2 separate regions of the Homo sapiens genome follow, and region 2 is linked to region 1. Evidence: fine-mapped expression QTL. A gene starts in region 1. The other region holds a variant in brackets. All regions are shown on one strand. Distances are between the middles of the regions.

What was found. PIP is the estimated chance that this variant, and not a neighbour inherited with it, causes the effect.
Region 2: its variant is fine-mapped to the expression of LITATS1 in unexposed skin (GTEx, PIP 0.92).

Annotation. Positions count from the first base shown.
Region 1 is chr1:37,470,703-37,479,102 of GRCh38, forward strand. LITATS1 (lncRNA induced by TGF-beta and antagonizes TGF-beta signaling 1) reads right to left here and starts at 3,741. Exons shown (of 3, transcript NR_038842.1): 1 at 3,442-3,741. It overlaps ZC3H12A (zinc finger CCCH-type containing 12A), which reads left to right and starts at 3,878. Exons shown (of 6, transcript NM_025079.3): 1 at 3,878-3,927; 2 at 4,757-5,237. The coding sequence starts at 4,795. RefSeq lists silencers at 3,053-3,152, 3,613-4,072 and enhancers at 4,723-4,822, 6,533-6,832, 8,223-8,400.
Region 2 is chr1:37,449,741-37,458,140 of GRCh38, forward strand. LITATS1 (lncRNA induced by TGF-beta and antagonizes TGF-beta signaling 1) reads right to left here. Exons shown (of 3, transcript NR_038842.1): 2 at 6,627-6,719; 3 at 5,139-6,172. Among named protein-coding and RNA genes, the nearest start is that of LITATS1, 21 kb to the right of the region's middle. RefSeq lists enhancers at 1,618-2,817, 2,220-3,010, 5,008-6,207, 5,056-5,577, 5,578-6,099. The variant G/A (reference allele first, on the strand shown) is at 4,125.

The DNA of each region.
Region 1 (8,400 bases):
GTTTTGAGCGCTTCCTAAATCCCTGGCACCACAGCACACTGCCGGCTCATCCTTTCCCTGTCCCAGCCCTAAAATCAGCCATCTCTCCAAGGAAATAATGTATTTTTAATACAAGTTCTCCAATTATCTTGTCAATAGTCCAAATATATTGCACCGCATTTGAATGCATGATTTAAAAAAAAAAGAGTTAATTTGTTCAGTTACCGTTTAAAACATACATTGATTTTTGTAGCCCTGCTGTGACATGTCTTTTTGAAATATACCAGGAGTCTGGCCGGGAGCAGTGGCTCATGCCTGTAATCCCAGCACTTTGGGAGGCCAAGGCGGGCGGATCACGAGGTCAAGAGATCGAGACCATCCTGGCTAACACGGTGAAACCCCGTTTCTACTAAAAACACAAAAAAATTATCCAGGTGTGTTGGCAGGCACCTGTAGTCCCAGCTACTGGTAGTCCCAGCTACTCGGGAGGCTGAGGCAGGAGAATGGCATGAACCTGGGAGGCGGAGCTTGCAGTGAGCTGAGATCGCGCCACTGCACTCCAGCCTGGGCGACAGAGCCAGACTCCATCTCGAAAATAAAAAATAAAAAGAAATATACCAGGAGTCTCAAACATGGGAGGGATCTGGTCCTTTCTTCACTTCTAGGAGGCCTTGTTGAATTTAAACATCACCTCAGCAGCCACTCCCTTAAGGCTTGAGGGCAGCCTGCCCAGCCTTTCTACAGAGGTAGCCCAGTTCCCGGGTCCTCCCCAGGCTGAGCTGCCCAGTGAAGCAACTGAAAGCCAAGGTCATTCCTGGGACCTTTCCCTCTCCAACCTCATCTCCCAACCCCCCACCACCCTCAGGCAGTGACCAGTCCACAAGCTTTGCAGACCCCACCTACGCTGGCTGGGCACAGGCAGATAGATGGTGGGAGGCCAGGCAGGCTCCAAGAAGGAAATTAGCCAGCCCAGCTGCCAAGACAGGCATACGAGAGGCAGAGGGGTTTGTGTGGGCTCGGCTTCAGAGAACTCCTGGGGATTAGGGCCAAAGTTTGCAAAATCCAGCTGTAAACGGAGCAGGGGTTCCCCAAAGAAGCCGTGGGTTCTGTAGAGGAGAGTCGGCTTCTTGGGAAGTAGCATGAGCCGGAAGACAGCGAGACTGTGGCTCTCTCTGGGAGGGCAGGGAGCAGCATGACTCATCGCCTAGTCCTGCTGGCTCCTACTGGCACAGGGCTGGGCAGCAGAGGGTCTGGGAGCAGGAGCAGAGTCTGGTCTTGTTGCAGCTCCAGAGGAGGTCTCAGGCTGGCAAAGACAATCTAACACGTTGGGACATAGGCAGGGTGTTGTGGGGACACTTAGGAGGGTACAACCAGCATCAAAGGAGTCTTGGCTGGCCTCACAGAGGAGGTGACATCATCCAAAAGATGAATGGAACTGGCTAGGAAGCAGCTGGGTGGGAGAGAGGGAAGGGCACTCCAAGCCAAGGAAGAAGCAGAGCAGAGGCCCGAAAGTGTCTGCAAGGCGCTAGCTGGTGCCTGCCACCCAGTGAGCACTCTATAAATGGGAGGCATTATCTCTATGATTGATTAGTATTGTCATTATCATTATTAACCTGGACACATCACTTAATGTTTTTACTATCTTAAAGGTAGTTGCTATAGCGAATAAATGCTTAACATAACTGAGCTCTTCTCATCTGTAAAAGGGACTGTTGTGAGGTTAGGGGTGCCGCCGGCACCGCACTCAGCTGGAGTGACAGCAAGCATGTGAGGTGCCCAGCATGGGATGTGAGCTGGCATGCAGCAGGGGGCCTTGTGTTTCCTCTCTCCTTGGGTTGCCAAGCCCCTGGAGCTGCTGTGCCTGGGGAGCAGAGAAGGGGACACTTTGGGGTCTTCAAAGATGACCAGGCAACAAAGCAGGAACACCGCTAGGTAAGAGCAAGCAAGCCCAGAGGAACAGCCTCAGGGTCCAGATAGAGACGTACACGCCTGCCTCCCTGGGGTCTTTGGTGGCCTCCCGAACAAGCAGGTGTGGATGGGGAGATGGACTGCCTTGGAGAGAGCTACATGAGTTCCAGCTCCACCAGCCCCCAGAGCCTGAGCAGGTGACTTCACCTTTCTGAATCTCTGAACATCCATTTCCTCCACTGTACAATTTCATTAAGATACATACAAGAATATCCAAAGCACAGTCTTTGTAATAGAAAAAAAATCCTAGAAACAACATCCAACAGCAGGTGACTGAATAAGTAACCAGTGGTATATTCATAAAATGGGACACTATTCAGTAGTAAAATAAATTACAGGTATGCAGGCAATCAAAATGGATTTTTAAAAATATAATGCTGTATGAAAAAGGAAGTCACATAATTATGGAATGACTCCGTTTACACAAAGTAAAAAATAGCAAAACTATACAATATCCCACTTAGGGATGCATACAGAGGTGGTAAAACTACAAGAAAAAGCAAGAGAATGACTAGCACAATTAAAGTTCAGGAAACTAGTTCTTCAGGATGTGGGCAGGAGGCTGTGATGGGGGCACCCAGAGGGCCTCAAGGTACTGGCACTGGTCTATTTTTTAAGTTAGGTGATGGATACATGGCTTTTTTATTATTACTATTATTCTTTAAGCTGTACATGTACAGTTGTGTCTATGGTGTCTTTTACAATAAACAAGTATTTATTATAACACTAGCACTTATAGGATACATGCCTATGATGAGGTAGAGAGAATGTAACAAAGGACTGGCACATAGTAAGCACTGGTGGCATGTGGCTCTGTCCTCCAGCGTGTGGGCTCTGTGTTTTCTCTCTCTCTCTCTCACTCACACACACGCACGCACACACACACACACACATAGGAAGCCAGGCTCCCCTCTGCCCTCAGTCACTCGTGGTTCACAAAAATGGCAAATAATAGGAGCACTAGAATAGGAGCTCTCCATCCTGGTTCGAGTCTTTCCAGCTGGGGCAGTTTAGCCTTTGCAGAATTTCTCAAGGGTAACATCAGCATAATGACCTCTGTCTGTAAGCCCGTGAGTGTAAGCCTGTAAAGTGCTGTGCTCATGCGAGGGATCAGGTCTGACCTGGGAAACTAAAAGCATCTTCATGGAGCAAGGGTGCTCCTCCAGTGGGGGCGCTCAGTGAGTTCTGCGGTATGGGTGACAGTATTCTTGTGTGGACAGTATTCATGTGGTGATTGGGGTAAATGGCCCTCTTTTGCCTGGTTTTCTGCCTCGGTCATTGTGCATCTGCTGACTGAACCTGCCTTTTGGTCCTAGTAAAGTACAGATTTCAGGAAAAGTGTACCTGGCCCCGGGGGTGGCCAACCTCTGTGTGACGGCTTTAAGCACAGTGTGTCTTGAGGGGGCCTGACTCCATCTGAAAAGTGCCTGTCTGGATGTACCTGTCTATAACCATGGACCTGCCTCCAAGGTGCGTGGACCAACCTCCGCGTACCTGATTCACTCGATGCGCACCTGGCCGTACGTAGCTTCATCAGGCAGGGTGTACCTGTCAAGTTCTTAGGTCCGAGTGTTCGCGGCTTTACCTGTCCTGGTACCGCCGTCCGCACCTCGGTCAGTGCGTCCCCGGCAGGTGCGTGTACCTGATTCAGTCCGTGCTTATCTTGCGCATACGGGCCGTTCAGTGTCCCGCTCGGAGCTCGTCGCCGCCGCAGCCTTGAGGCTCCGACCCCCGCTTGGGCCCCGTCCGGCGCGCAGCGGCCGCGGGGGCGGGGCCGCGACGCGAGGAGCGGAGCAGGAAGGGGCGAGGCAGCCCCGCCCCCGGGGCGGTCTCCCGGGACGGCCCCGCCCCTTGCCCGCTTCCGCGTCAGTGCCTCACCACCACCTGCCCGCGCGCCGCCCCATATAAAGGCGCCGCCGTCCTTACCCCCAGGACTCGGCCCCATGGAGACGCCGCCGGCCGCCGCTGGCGCATGGCGGGGTGAGGCGCGGCGGGGAGGGTGCGGGCCTCGGCGGGGAAGCGGCAGGGAGCGCTCCGGCGGGGTCCGAGCCGAGCCGAGGGGAGGGGACGGGAGGGGACGGGAGGGGTGGAGAGGGGAGGGGACGGAAGGGTCGGGGTCCTGTTCCCCGGCCCGCCGGGCCTCAGGACCCCTCCAACTTTGCCCAAGTTGGGAGAGCCGGGGAAGAGCACCAGGTTCCTGATCGGGATCGCGGGCCGAGCAAGCGCGGGTCTCGGGCCGGGACAGCCTCGGCGTCACCAGCTCCCGGCAGCCAACCAAAGTTTTCCAGCAACTTTTCTCCCCACGGGTCACCCCAGAAACTTGCCCTCCCCGGCTCCGGGAGTCCGGCCATGGGCCTTGCGCTGCCTGGGCCTGAGCTCTGAGTGCCGGACGGGTGGGCGAAAGTGGTGGCCTCAGTGGGGAAGCCTTGGGCCCCGCAACGCACTTCCAGCCCCAGGATTCCATCTGAGAGCCCCGTCCCTGCCTTCTGGGTCCCCTGGGTTGGCGTGGGGGTTCGAGGCTTTACAGCTGGGGTAGTTCCAGTCTTAGTTCAGACTAAGTTCCGATCTTCGAGCCACCAGCTAACAGCTGGATGACCTTGAGCACGTTTTTAATGTCTGTGCCTCAGTTTCTCCCTTTATAGAATGGGAATGGGAATGCCTAGCTGGGAGAGCTTTTGAGAGGACAACCTGAACTAATAACACGATGCAGTGTGTAGTGCCACCAATCCCTCATCCTGCTGGATGTGGTTTTGGGAGGGAGGTTAGGAGAGAGCGCTATTCACCGTCCCTAACCCTGTTGGTTGTTCAGTAGGAGCTGTGGCGCGGGGCCTTCCAGGAGTCTGAGCTATGAGTGGCCCCTGTGGAGAGAAGCCTGTCCTGGAAGCCAGCCCCACCATGAGTCTGTGGGAATTTGAGGACAGCCACAGCCGTCAGGGCACCCCAAGGCCGGGTCAAGAGCTGGCCGCTGAGGAGGCCTCGGCCCTGGAACTGCAGATGAAGGTGGACTTCTTCCGGAAGCTGGGCTATTCATCCACGGAGATCCACAGCGTCCTGCAGAAGCTGGGCGTCCAGGCAGACACCAACACGGTGCTGGGTGAGCTGGTGAAACACGGGACAGCCACCGAGCGGGAGCGCCAGACCTCACCGGACCCCTGCCCTCAGCTCCCTCTAGTCCCGCGGGGTGGTGGCACCCCTAAGGCTCCCAACCTGGAGCCTCCACTCCCAGAAGAGGAAAAGGAGGGCAGCGACCTGAGACCAGTGGTCATCGATGGGAGCAACGTGGCCATGAGGTAAGTGTCACTTCTGTGGCCAGGACACATGAGGTTCGCATCTCTCCTGTGGCCAGGACACATGGAAGGATGACTGTCTCTGCAGCTCTGGTGGGCTGGAAGAAGTGACTTCCTTCTTAGGGACTGGTCTAGAGGGAGGGAAAGCCTTTTATGAGGCTAGGGTCGCGCTACTGGTAAGTGACAGAGGCAGGGTTCCAGCCCAGGTCCCTCTGTCCGCAGAGCTTACCTTATGCTGTGGGTCCCTCCCTGAGGCCAGCACTGTGTCTCCACTCCTCTCCTGTAATGTGAGGCAGGGCTGTAAAGGGGACCAGCCCGTGGGCAGCTGCTCACTCACCCCTCGGAACCTGATCTCAGGTGGGTGTTGTGAGGAGGGAGTGTGCGGATCCCGGAGAGGAGCAAGCGTTCAGGAACCATAGTAGTGGTAGTAGGCAGTGGTAGTAGCAGTTGTTGTTGTTATTTCAGGGGCTGGGCTTCTGAGGCCTTCTTGTCTCAGACCTGGGCTCCCACGAAAACAGGTCCAGTGACTGTGTCCAAGAGTGACCTCAAGGCTGGGTCCAGCTTTACATGGGTTGTGGGCAGGTGGCCTGATGCTCTGGCCTCAGGCGAGCTGCAACTTGGATCCCTACTGACTCAGCTGAAGCAGCCTGGGCTGGACCAGTCTCTGGAGGTTCCCCGGGGCCAGAGCCAGGACTCAGCCCCCAGTGACTCCCACCCCCATCCCCCAGCACAGGAATGGGGTGGGGAGGTAGGGGCAGAGAGGGAAGCCAGGGCTGCTGCTGACCTTGGGAAACCCAGACTTCTCCCGTCAATCCAGGCTCCACCCTCTGGCCCCACTTTTTTCCCAGTTCCCTCCAAGGCAGGCTGATGAGTCAGTGCTGGGTGGATGGCTCACAGGGAAAAGTTCCTGTTGGCATGGACGGGGAGACCCCAGACACAGGGTTGAGAAGGGATGATTTTCTGGCTGCCCTGAGGGAGCTCCTAGGTGGGCTGCCCAAGGCTGGCATGACATCAGCCTCTGCCCTCCCTAATTTGTGGCCCCTGTGGGACAAGTTCACTGTCCAGCTGGCCCTGGCCCAGCTCAGCAGGCATGCAGCTGAGTGCTCTTCCCTCCTTCTGTCACCTTCAGGCCAGTCTTCCTCTCTCTGACTTGGGCTGAGCCTGGATGGGAGGCTGAGAAAATCCAGTTTCCATGCCAAGAGGCAGCAGGTCACAGCCCATGCTTCGAGATTAGAAGGGGTCCCTCTCAGTGTCCAGCCTCATGTAGCTGGGCTAGGAGCTAGGTTGGATCTGTGTGACTCCTTCCTCTGGAGGTATGGGCCAGGAGCGGCTGAGCCCTGGGAGCAGCCATATGCAGTATGTGTTTGTATCCAGAAGGAGGAGGGACATGGGAGGAGGGGCTGTGATGAGGGGTGCTCAGAGGAGCCTGCTCCTGAGAAGCAGAGCCACGCACCCACCTCGGGGGTTTCTGAGCTGGGGTAGTGGCAGGAGGGGAATTCCAGCCTCAAACTTCCTGTCTCAGCTGCTACTCGGTTCCTGCCCGGCCACCCCCCCTCCCCAGGGGCAGGCGGGCTAGCCCCCCCATCATATGCAAATCATGGGGAAATTCACCTCTGTTTCCTTCTAAGGGAATTTTTTTCCACTCGCCAGGCCCAGCCCAGGCATATCTTTTCACCTGGGGAGGCTGGCCCAGCCCTGCCTTCTGTCCTGGGGCAGGAGCAGCCTAGCTGGAGTCTTCTACACACACATCCTATCAGTGTCTGCTTAGCCCGGCTGGGGGACCCTGACCTTACAGGCAAAGAGAACTGGAATGGGGGCAGGGATGTCTGGTTTTCCTGTGCCAGCAGCGCTTCCTCCAGTGCAGTGAAAGAGACTAAAGCTAGCTGTAGGGGGGCACTCCAGGCCTCATGTGCTCTACCAGGAGGAGGGCTCTGATAGCGCCCACTGATCAGTTTTTCCATCTGCTGAGGGAATATTCAGGTGCTAGGGCTGCTGAGAACCGACTTGTCCCAGCCAAGATTTTCAGTGCCCACAGGCAGTGCACTGCCCTGAGAGCCCTGGCATCCCATTAGTTCCCAGTGCTCCAAGATACTAGCCTAGGATCATGTGCCCGGAGGGAGGCAGGTGGGCGGATACATGCGCACACTGCATACCTGAGACAAGGAGCCAGGCCTGGGATGACCCAGCTGCCATGGTTTTGAGAGGCAGGCCAGAAGGCCCAAGGAAGGGGGGTGATGTGATGGGGGAAGCACTGGGCATTGTGAAGACACAGACCAGGGACCTGACCTATTGTGGCAGGTCAGGGAAGGCTTCTCAGAGGCAGTGACATCTCACAAGGGTTCTGAAGGAAGAGCAGGAGTTTGCCAGCAGCATTGTTTCTCCCGTTCGCCACCTGTCTCTCATAACACACTTTGTTCAAACTCAATTTTGGGAGCTTTGTTCTCCCAAATAAATTCTGGATCTTCTGTTAGAGACAGGAAGGCAACCGAGTGGCCCAGACCTGGGTTCGAGTTCTGACTGTCTCTTACCACTAGCCAGGTGACCTTCCTTTCCTTCACGGTAGCAAGCCCTATAAGAATGAAGCCATATATCTGGCCACCAGCGGGAGCTCAGTGCCTGCGAATCCCTGCTCATTCCCTGCGATCAGGGTCTGTGCCTGCCTTCGTACCTGCCTGAGCATTGACGTACAGGGTAGTGATAAGCATAGGCCCTGGGCTTGCGTCTCTCTTCCACCGTTAACTGCTGTGTGACCCTGGTGACTAAGCTGCCTTCTCTGGACCACAGTTTTCATCTGAAAAACAGGGAAGGAGTTGATGATGGTATAGTGCCCTCCTCACAAGCTTGCTGATGATTCAGTGTTAGACACTTATAACAGGGCCTGGTTCACAGCTCTCAGCAAATGGGAACTTTTATTATAAGCAGGCTGGCAGATGTGGCAGAGGGACCGGGAAGGATGAGTGCTGCCCTGGGCTGGACTTTGTCTCCCCTACAATTTAGAGACCTTCAGACCCTGGTGCCCCAGTCTTGCCCCCAAATAGCCTCCATGGCCCCCAGCTGCCCCACCTCCCTCCCTAGCTTCTCTTAGGGCTCCAGCTATCACCCCTTACCTCCCCCACTCCCATTAAAGACACCCACAGGATGTGGTTGGCCCTGGACTTGCCTCTTT
Region 2 (8,400 bases), 21 kb before region 1:
AGCTGGCCCCCTGGATATCCTAGAGGAAGGAGGGTAGAGCATCCTGGACCCTGGGACCAGAAGCATCCTTCCTCCCTGGGGACAAACTGCATGGCGATGAGGCTTGCTGGCTTGGAAGCTGAGCCGTCTGGATGGTCCTGGCTCTGCCACTTACCAGCTCTGTCAAGGTGGGCAAGTGGCCTGTTTTGCTCTTCGTAGTGATGATCTGTAAAACAACCCAGCTTATAGGGTTGGTATGAAGATTAAATAGAATAGTACCTTGAAAACACTTTAAATAGAGCCCGGTATGCAGTAGGTCCATAACAAATGTTAACTTTGACTAATGACATCCGGCTGCCTCCCTTCCATTGCATACTCCTTACACATTGCCCCTGCTGAGTGCACCTCCCTCCTTCCCTTGCCCACACATCCCCCTCCCCCATACCCGCCACCCACTTCCTTTTTTTAGGAGGCAGGGTTTAGCTCTGTCACCCAGGCCGGAGTGCAGTGGCACAATCAAAGCTGACTGCAACCTCGACCTCCTGGCCTCAAGGGATTCTCCCACCTCAGCACCCCTCCCCAAGTAGCTGGGATCACAGGCATATGCCACCATGCCCAGCTAGTTTTTTTTGTTTTTTTGTAGAGACAAGGTCTCGTTATGTTGCCCAGGCTGGTCTAGAACTCCCAGGCTCAAGCAATCCTCCCACCTCAGCCTCCCAAAGTGCTGGGATTACAGGTGTGAGCCACCTCTCCGGCCTTTTTGGGTTTTTGTTTTGTTTTGTGTTTTGTTTGGTTTTGACGGAGTCTCCCTCTATCACTCAGGCTGGAGTGTCATGGCTCACTACAGCCTCAAACTCCTGGGCTCAAGCAATTCTCCCACTTCAGCCTCCTGAGTAGCTGAGACTATAGGCACGTGCCAACACGCCCAGGTAATTTTTAAATATTTTTGTGGAGACAGGTTCTTTCTCTGTCGCCTAGGCTGGAGTGCAGTGGCACGATTCCGGCTCACTTCAACCTCTGCCTCCCAGACTCAGGTGATCCTCCCACCTTAGCCTCCAAAGTAGTAGCTGGGACCACAGGCTCGCGCCACCACGCCTGGCTAATTTTTAAAATTTTTTTTAGTAGAGAAAGGATTTCACCTTGTTGCCCAAGCTGCAAAGTTCCTTTTAATGATGTCCCTGAGCTGAAGACAGCTACAAGAGACTGCGGACGGTCTGATGAAAGGCTTGGGAAGCCTCATTCCTTCGCAATTCAATTCTTGTGGGCCAAACCAATTAAAATGTTCGTATAATCCTTCCAAGGAAAGCCAGCCTCCCTGGGTTCAAATCCCAGCTCTACCACTCACCACCTGTGTGTTCTTGGGCCAGTTTCTTCTGGGCCTCAGTGTCTCTATCAATAAAATGAGACTCACAGCTGTCATGAAGGTCACAAAAAACAAGCTCTGTGGAGTGCTGGGCAGGTAACCGGCCAGTGAGTGGCGGCTTTTACTTTCAGCATCAGTTGGAGACACAGCAGCAGGAGAGGGTGTGGGGGTCTGAAGCTGCGGAGGGGGAGGGCAGGGCAGGGGTTCCATCACAGAATGACCTCGTGGGGGTTCTCAGCTATTGCCCTAGGGTAACTTTTTTTTTTTTTTTTTTTGAGATGGAATCTCGCTCTGTTGCCCAGGCTGGAGTGCAGTGGCACGATCTTGGCTCACCACAACCTCTGCCTCCCGGATTCAAGCGATTCTCCTGCCTCAGCCTCCTGAGTAGCTGGGACTACAGGTGCACACCACGATGCCAGCTTTTTTTCTTGTCACCCAGGCTGGAGTGCAGTGGCACCATCTTGGCTCACTGCAACCTCTGCCTCCTGGGTTTAAGCGATTCTCCTGCCTCAGCCTCCCGAGTAGCTGGGATTACAGGCACCCGCCACCACATCAGGCTAATTTTTTGGTAGAGATGGGGTTTCATCATGTTGGCCAGGCTGGTCTCAAACTCCTGACCTCAGGTGATCCACCCGCCTCGGCCTCCCAAAGTGCAGGGATTACAGGCGTGAGCCACCAGCCTAATTTTTGTATTTTTAGTAGAGATGGGGTTTCACTATGTTGGCCAGGCTGGTCTCGAACTGCTGACCTCTGGATCCACCTGCCTCAGCCTCCCAAAGTGCTGGGATTACAGGCGTGAGCCTCCGCGCCCGGCCGCCCTAGGGTAACTTTTAATGACACTCCCTTTCATTCCCAAACGTATCCTAATCTGGATGACTAATTATATGGTCATCCTACTCCAAATCCCCCACGCCCAAGATGGGGCCTGGGAGCTGGCCCATGGTGTTGGGAAAGGGTTCTACTCCTGACCTGTTTTCCTTTCCAGACCCTTGGGATTGCCTAAGCCCTGGGTCCCAGCCCCAGCCCTAGCCCACTCTCAGGCCAAGGAAACTCATTCCCTCAATTAGCATTATAAAGCGGCAGGGAGGGGAAAGGCCTCGAAGGCGGGTGCCCGGAAGGTGCTGGGAATGGGAGTCTGTTGGGATTCCGGGCCTTACCTCTGATCCTGACGGCAATTCCTCATATCCTTAACTTCCTCTTTCCTGCAGGGAAATTATTAACAGTACTATCTCTGATTTGCAAAGATCAAATCACACAAGGACTGGCGGTGAAAGTGTTGTGTGGTCCGATGAGTGGCATTAGGAGGGCAGTGACTTCTGCTTCGGCCACCAAGGCAGAATTCCCAGATCCTGTTTCTCCGGTGATTGTGGGGGAGACAGAGATGGAGCATAAAGGGTCACAAAGGGTCCACAGATGGCTGGGGGTGAGGTGTCTACCCAGTGCCTCGGCCTATAGAAGTCTTCTCACTCACAGCCCCTAGCCCACTTCCACCAGGCCCGGAAGGACACCTCCAATGCCTGTCCAGGGCCCCCTGGCCCTGCTCAGAGATGCCTCCTCCAGGCAGAGGCAGCTGCTACCCTCAAGCTCCAGGTGACTGCTGCCAGGCTCAGAAGCTACTCAGGGTAGGTGGTGAGCCCGCTGCCTCCAGGGCTGCTTCTCAGAAAAGCTCAGAGAAGACATCTTAGCGGCTAAGTGGCACTCATTTTATTTGAGGCAGAATTCTTGTCCGGTGGTCCCCAAACTGCACACCTAGGAACCCCAAGAGCTTAATGACAGATGAGAGTTCTGAGGGAGTGGGACCAAGTGGGCAGGACTCCAGGGGCATTGAAGGGCTTCCTCCTCTCCTCTCCCCTCCCCTCCCCTCATCTCTCCCCTCCCCTCCCCTCTCCTCTTCCCTCCCCTGTCCTCTCTCTCCCCTCTCCCTCTCCTCTCTGCTGTCTGTCCTTTCCCATTCTCTTCTCTTTCTCCCTCTCTTTCACTCTTTCTTCAACCAGAGCAGCTCCATTTAGTATTCTGTCCAAAATTTTTCTCGCACAAAAATGTCCACAGTTAAAATAATTTTTCAAAAACAGAGTTCTGTTCCTCCTCTCTCCTTTCCTTCCTCAACAATTCAGTCCTAAAACTATTATGTGCAGCAGAGCAAGGGAATGGGGGAACCATGGATGAACACAGCAGGATTCCTAGCAGAGTGAGGAGGGGGACCACTGGGGAAGGCAGGCTGGCCCAGGGGTGTCAGAGTACAAATCAGTGAGGGGCTGTCACCCCTATGGGGTCAGCCTGATATGGGTGTCAGAGCCCAGGCAGACAAAGCAAGGCAGCCATGCAGGGGATGGTTCCAGTGTGGGAAGCCAGAGCCAGCCAGAAGTGGGGTGTCAGAGCCTACAGCTGAGTTAGGAGGGTGTCTCAATGGGGGAAAGGGGTAGCCCTGTGCAGAAAGTCAGAGTGCCCAGGTCACCCATCCATCAAGACTTGGGGCTCTGCCTCCCCTACGTCTGCCCCAATCCTTTCTAAAGCCAGGCTTAGCTGGACCAAGGAAGACCCTGGGCCTCTTCTCAGTTGAAGCCACTGAGCACCAGGACATGCCAGGCAAGATTAGATGTGCCAGGTGCTGGAGTTAGAGCCAGGCTGGAGCAAGACAGTCAGGTCTCAGCCGGTGTGGAGCCCACAGTCCAGCAGGGAGGATGGACACAGAGGCTGCCATCACAGAACATGAGCTCAGCAGCAGGACGGGAGCTCGTGGAGGGCAAGCAACGTGACCTTGCACAGGGACCAGGCAGTGTCC[G/A]CAGAGGAGGCAAGCCAATGAGTCAGGAAGATGAGTTTACCAGGCGGGGGAGGATGGGGGTGGCAATGCCTCTGGGCCTCAGTCTCTCCCCCTGCCCGTCCTCACCATCCCATCCACAAAAGTCCCAGCCACCAGGAGCCTCTCAAGAGGCCTTTCCATCCTGAGACCCCCATAGACTACAACCTAGTCCCAGGCCCCTCCAGATGGACAGTGTTGAGGGCCATCTCACCCGCCTGGCCTGGACCCCACCTCACTGGAGGCTGCCCTCAGTGGGAAGGTTCCTTTGCTCCCCTTTCTGAGGTCTGACATCCCCCATCATTGAGAAGTCCCGCCTTGTGTTTAACTCACATCTCTCTTGCTTTCTCTAATCTTCAGAGAAATGGCTAACTGAAGGCCTTTCACCAATTACAGGGAAACGCTGATAAAACCGGTCCCAGGAGGGCAGTGGGTTGGAGCTGCCCCAAAACTTTACCTTCAGGCTGAAGCTTCCTACCTTCTTTTTTTTTTTTTTTTTTTTTTTGAGATGGAGTCTTGCTCAGTAGCCCAGGCTGAAGTGCGGTGGCGCGATCTCGGCTCACTGCAAGCTCCGCCTCCCAGATTCACGCCATTCTCCTGCCTCAGCCTCCCTAGTAGCTGGGACTACAGGAGCCCGCCACCATACCTGGCTAACTTTTTGTATTTTTAGTAGAGACGGGGTTTCACCATGTTAGCCAGGATGGTCTCGATCTCCTGACCTCGTGATCCACCTGCCTTGGCCTCCCAAAGTGCTGGGATTACAGACGTGAGCCACCGTGCCCAGCTCCTACCTTCATTTTTTCATCTGCAAACACTGACCTGTGGGGTCCCTCTGATCTTCCCACACCCAGGTGAGAGCCCACACACATGCACCCCATCCTCACCACAGCCCTACTCCCTGAAGGGCCCTTGTCCATAGAAGGCCTGCATAGGGCTCATTCCAGGGGCCCCTCCATTTGGGGCTTATGATGGACTGGCCTAGCAGAGAAAAATAACTGCTTGGACTCCATATGACTTTATTTTCTGGGGTGGAGGAGAAAGCGAGCCACCTCAGCTGCCTCATCATGCAAAAGGTAGAGATTAGACCCCAGGAAGGACTTCCTTTGGCTTAGGGCATCCTTCTCCCTGCAGTCACCAGCAGGGGGCGCCACAGGCCAGCCTGTGGGACCCACTATCTGAGAACGGGGTTGTCACCCAGGAGTGAGTGAAGGTCTGGCCAGCACTGAGGGCTCTGGGGTGCAGAGAAGTTAGGAGATCCATCAAAGCAGCCAGACCACCTGGTGGGAGGCGGCACACACTCTGCCAGTCCGGACACGGGTTAGGGAGTGGCATCACATTCCGCCGAGTCATTGCCTGCGAAGACTAACGTCACCTCTGATGTCAGGGCTCCAAGGGGCTTCGTTCCAGCTCCAGGCTCCAGGAAAGGGCGTCGCAGGGCCCAGAGGTTACACAACTTCCCCCAAGATCGCTGTGGAAATGACTGGCAGAGCAGGGATTCAAACCCAGGTCCCTGTGGGTGCCTCTGCCCAGCCGCCTGCAGGGTCTGCAGGTGGCCATGTCCCACGTGTCACCTTTACAGACCCACGGCTGAGAGCCGGCCCAGCCTTGGCCTGGCTTCCTTCTTTCTCATCTCTAAAAATGCCTTTCATTCTAAGATCTCCTTGGCAGCTTCATAATAAAAAGAAGGCTTCTGAAACCGCAAATGTTTTTAAATGAATTCAAGCCCCAAGTTTCTGCAGGGGGGTGAGGGATGCAGGATGAAGGTAAGTTTTTGAGTATGAAAGTTACATGCATGATGCGAGAGCCCTCCACTGACCTCCAAAACTCGCGCTGCCGGGGATACGAGGGCCCCTGGCGAGTCTCCCGAAGTGTCTCCTTTTGAAAGCTCACCGGTCCTTGTACTCTGAGTGCTTTCAGTTGGGTCCATTATGAGAAATCTCCTTTTGAGCATGGATGTATTCAAATCCAGATGTTGTCCCCGCAGAACAAAAAGCTCCCTCCAAATTCTCTTTATGAAGAAGTAGGTTCTCACCCTTTGAAGGAATAAACATCTCTTGATAAGTGGAATTTTTTTCCCCCAGCCAAGAACCTGCTGCTCCGAATTTGCTAAAAACTGGTTTAATAGCCGGTCTCCATTCTATTTCAGAGGCCAAGATGGCGGCGACAAGGTGGAATGTCAGCAGAAGATGTATTCAATAGATTGAGTGTGGCTTCACTAAGAAGGCTGGATTTTTAAAATATTTGTTATTTATTTAGATACTTTGTTTTTAAATTCAAGACATACATTCTAATGACAAAAGTGAAAAACAGATTGAAAGATGAAAAACAGAGTGTCAGAAAAACCTGCTCAATCATATACTTCATTTTGATTCAAATAACAACTTTTCAGGAAGGAAGGATACAGTAAACCTACGCATTGATTGTAAATTAGTCCCAATTTCTATAATATTCATTTTCTTAAAGTATGCTGGGCGTGGTGACTCATACCTGTAATCCCAGCACTTCGGGAGGCCAAGGCAGGTGGATTGCTTGAGCCCAAGAGCTTGAGATCAGCCTGGGCAACATGGCGAAACTTCGTCTCTACAAAAAATACAAAAATTAGCCAGGTGTGTAGTGGCAGGAGCCTGTAGTCCCAGCTACTCAGGAGGCTGAGGTGGGAGAATGGCTTAAACCGGGAGGTAGAGGCTGCTGTGAGCCAAGATCCTGCACTACACTTTAGCCTGCGTGACAGAGTGAGACCCTGTCTCAAAAATAAAATAAAATAAACCTTAAAATAGGGGAAATATGGATTACATATTTGTTAACTATATGTGTATATATAGCCAACAGAAATTTTTATCAGTAGGGTCTAGTTTTTTTGCTGTTGATAAAACCATCTGAGAGCTGGAAACAGGAATCCTTTCCTCACTCTGCTTGCATACCATTGGTGATGGGGAGCTCACCACCTCTGAAGGCACTCTGATTCACTGTGGGAAAGTTCTGATAGCCACAGAGCTGGTTCTCAGGCCCCTGTTATCTCCATGGGTGCCAGTTCTGCCCTTGGAGCCAGGCAGGGTTATACCACTGTTCCTGCCTCTGCCCTTTTGAGTCTTCTCTTCTGCAAGATCAGTATCCCCAGTTCCTCACTAACCTTTACCCTCCACAAACTGGACTCTGGTCTCTCCCTGTCTCCTCAAATGTACGACAACCAGAGTTGAGCACAACCCTCCAGCTATCACCTCCCTCATCGTCAACCTGTACCTCTACAGACTCAGCCTGAGACCACAATCATTTGGGGCAACCATCTCAATGTGCAATGAACCTTCAGCCAAAATCTCTTTCATGCAAAAAATTTTAATTTTACATCCATCCGTAGAGGGGTTAGTCCATCATCTCATCCGCTTTAGGGGATTTTGGGCTCTTGTTTGGTCATTTAAAATACCAGCCACTGCATCTAGTTTTGGGTCACCTGCAAATCGAATAAGCATGTCTTCTGCACCTTTAACCCAGCTGTTGATAGGAATGAGTGGTGATCTTGCCCCAGCCGGCCAGTGTCTCTGGGACCCTGGTTTCTCCATCCAATAATGAACAAGGGTGAGATGATGACCTGCATCAAGACATCCCATGGACTACATGTCAGACACTATCCTAAGCCCTTTACAAACACCAAGACATTGAATTCTTCACACCAATTCGATGAGGGAGGTATTGTTAGCATCTTCTCCATTCTGCAGATGAGGAAAACAGGTTTTGCAGGATTTGACCTCAATTCTGACTGCACCCAATCCGATGCTTTAGCCAGCATGGGTTATTCTCGGGAAGATCTCTGATGTGACCTAGAATAGAGCCGGCAGACCCACCAACAGAGCTGTCCTCACAAGCAGGAGTGCTACATGGCACTCCTTGGGCCCCTCGTAGATCCCCAAGTCCCATGCACGGCTCAGAAGCAGTGGAGGGCTGAAGATATGAGGCCACCTTCAGAAAGGGACATTAGATGCCTCAGCCATGATCGGGATGAACAGACAACCAAGGGACAACAAATCTTTCCCCTCACTCCCAGGTCTTGACTCTGCTTCAGAGCAAGGTGCACTTAAAACTTCAAGAGTGACTCAAAGGAGCGTGTTTGCCAGCTCAGTGAAAGTGGGGGCTTGGCGTCAAAACTTCAGGTAGGTTGTGGCATGTAAAGGAAGTGATGTTCCTAATTAAAAGGAAGCATGGGGTCGGGCACAGTGGCTCATGCTTGTAATCCCAGCACTTTGGGAGGCCGAGGCGGGCGGATCAC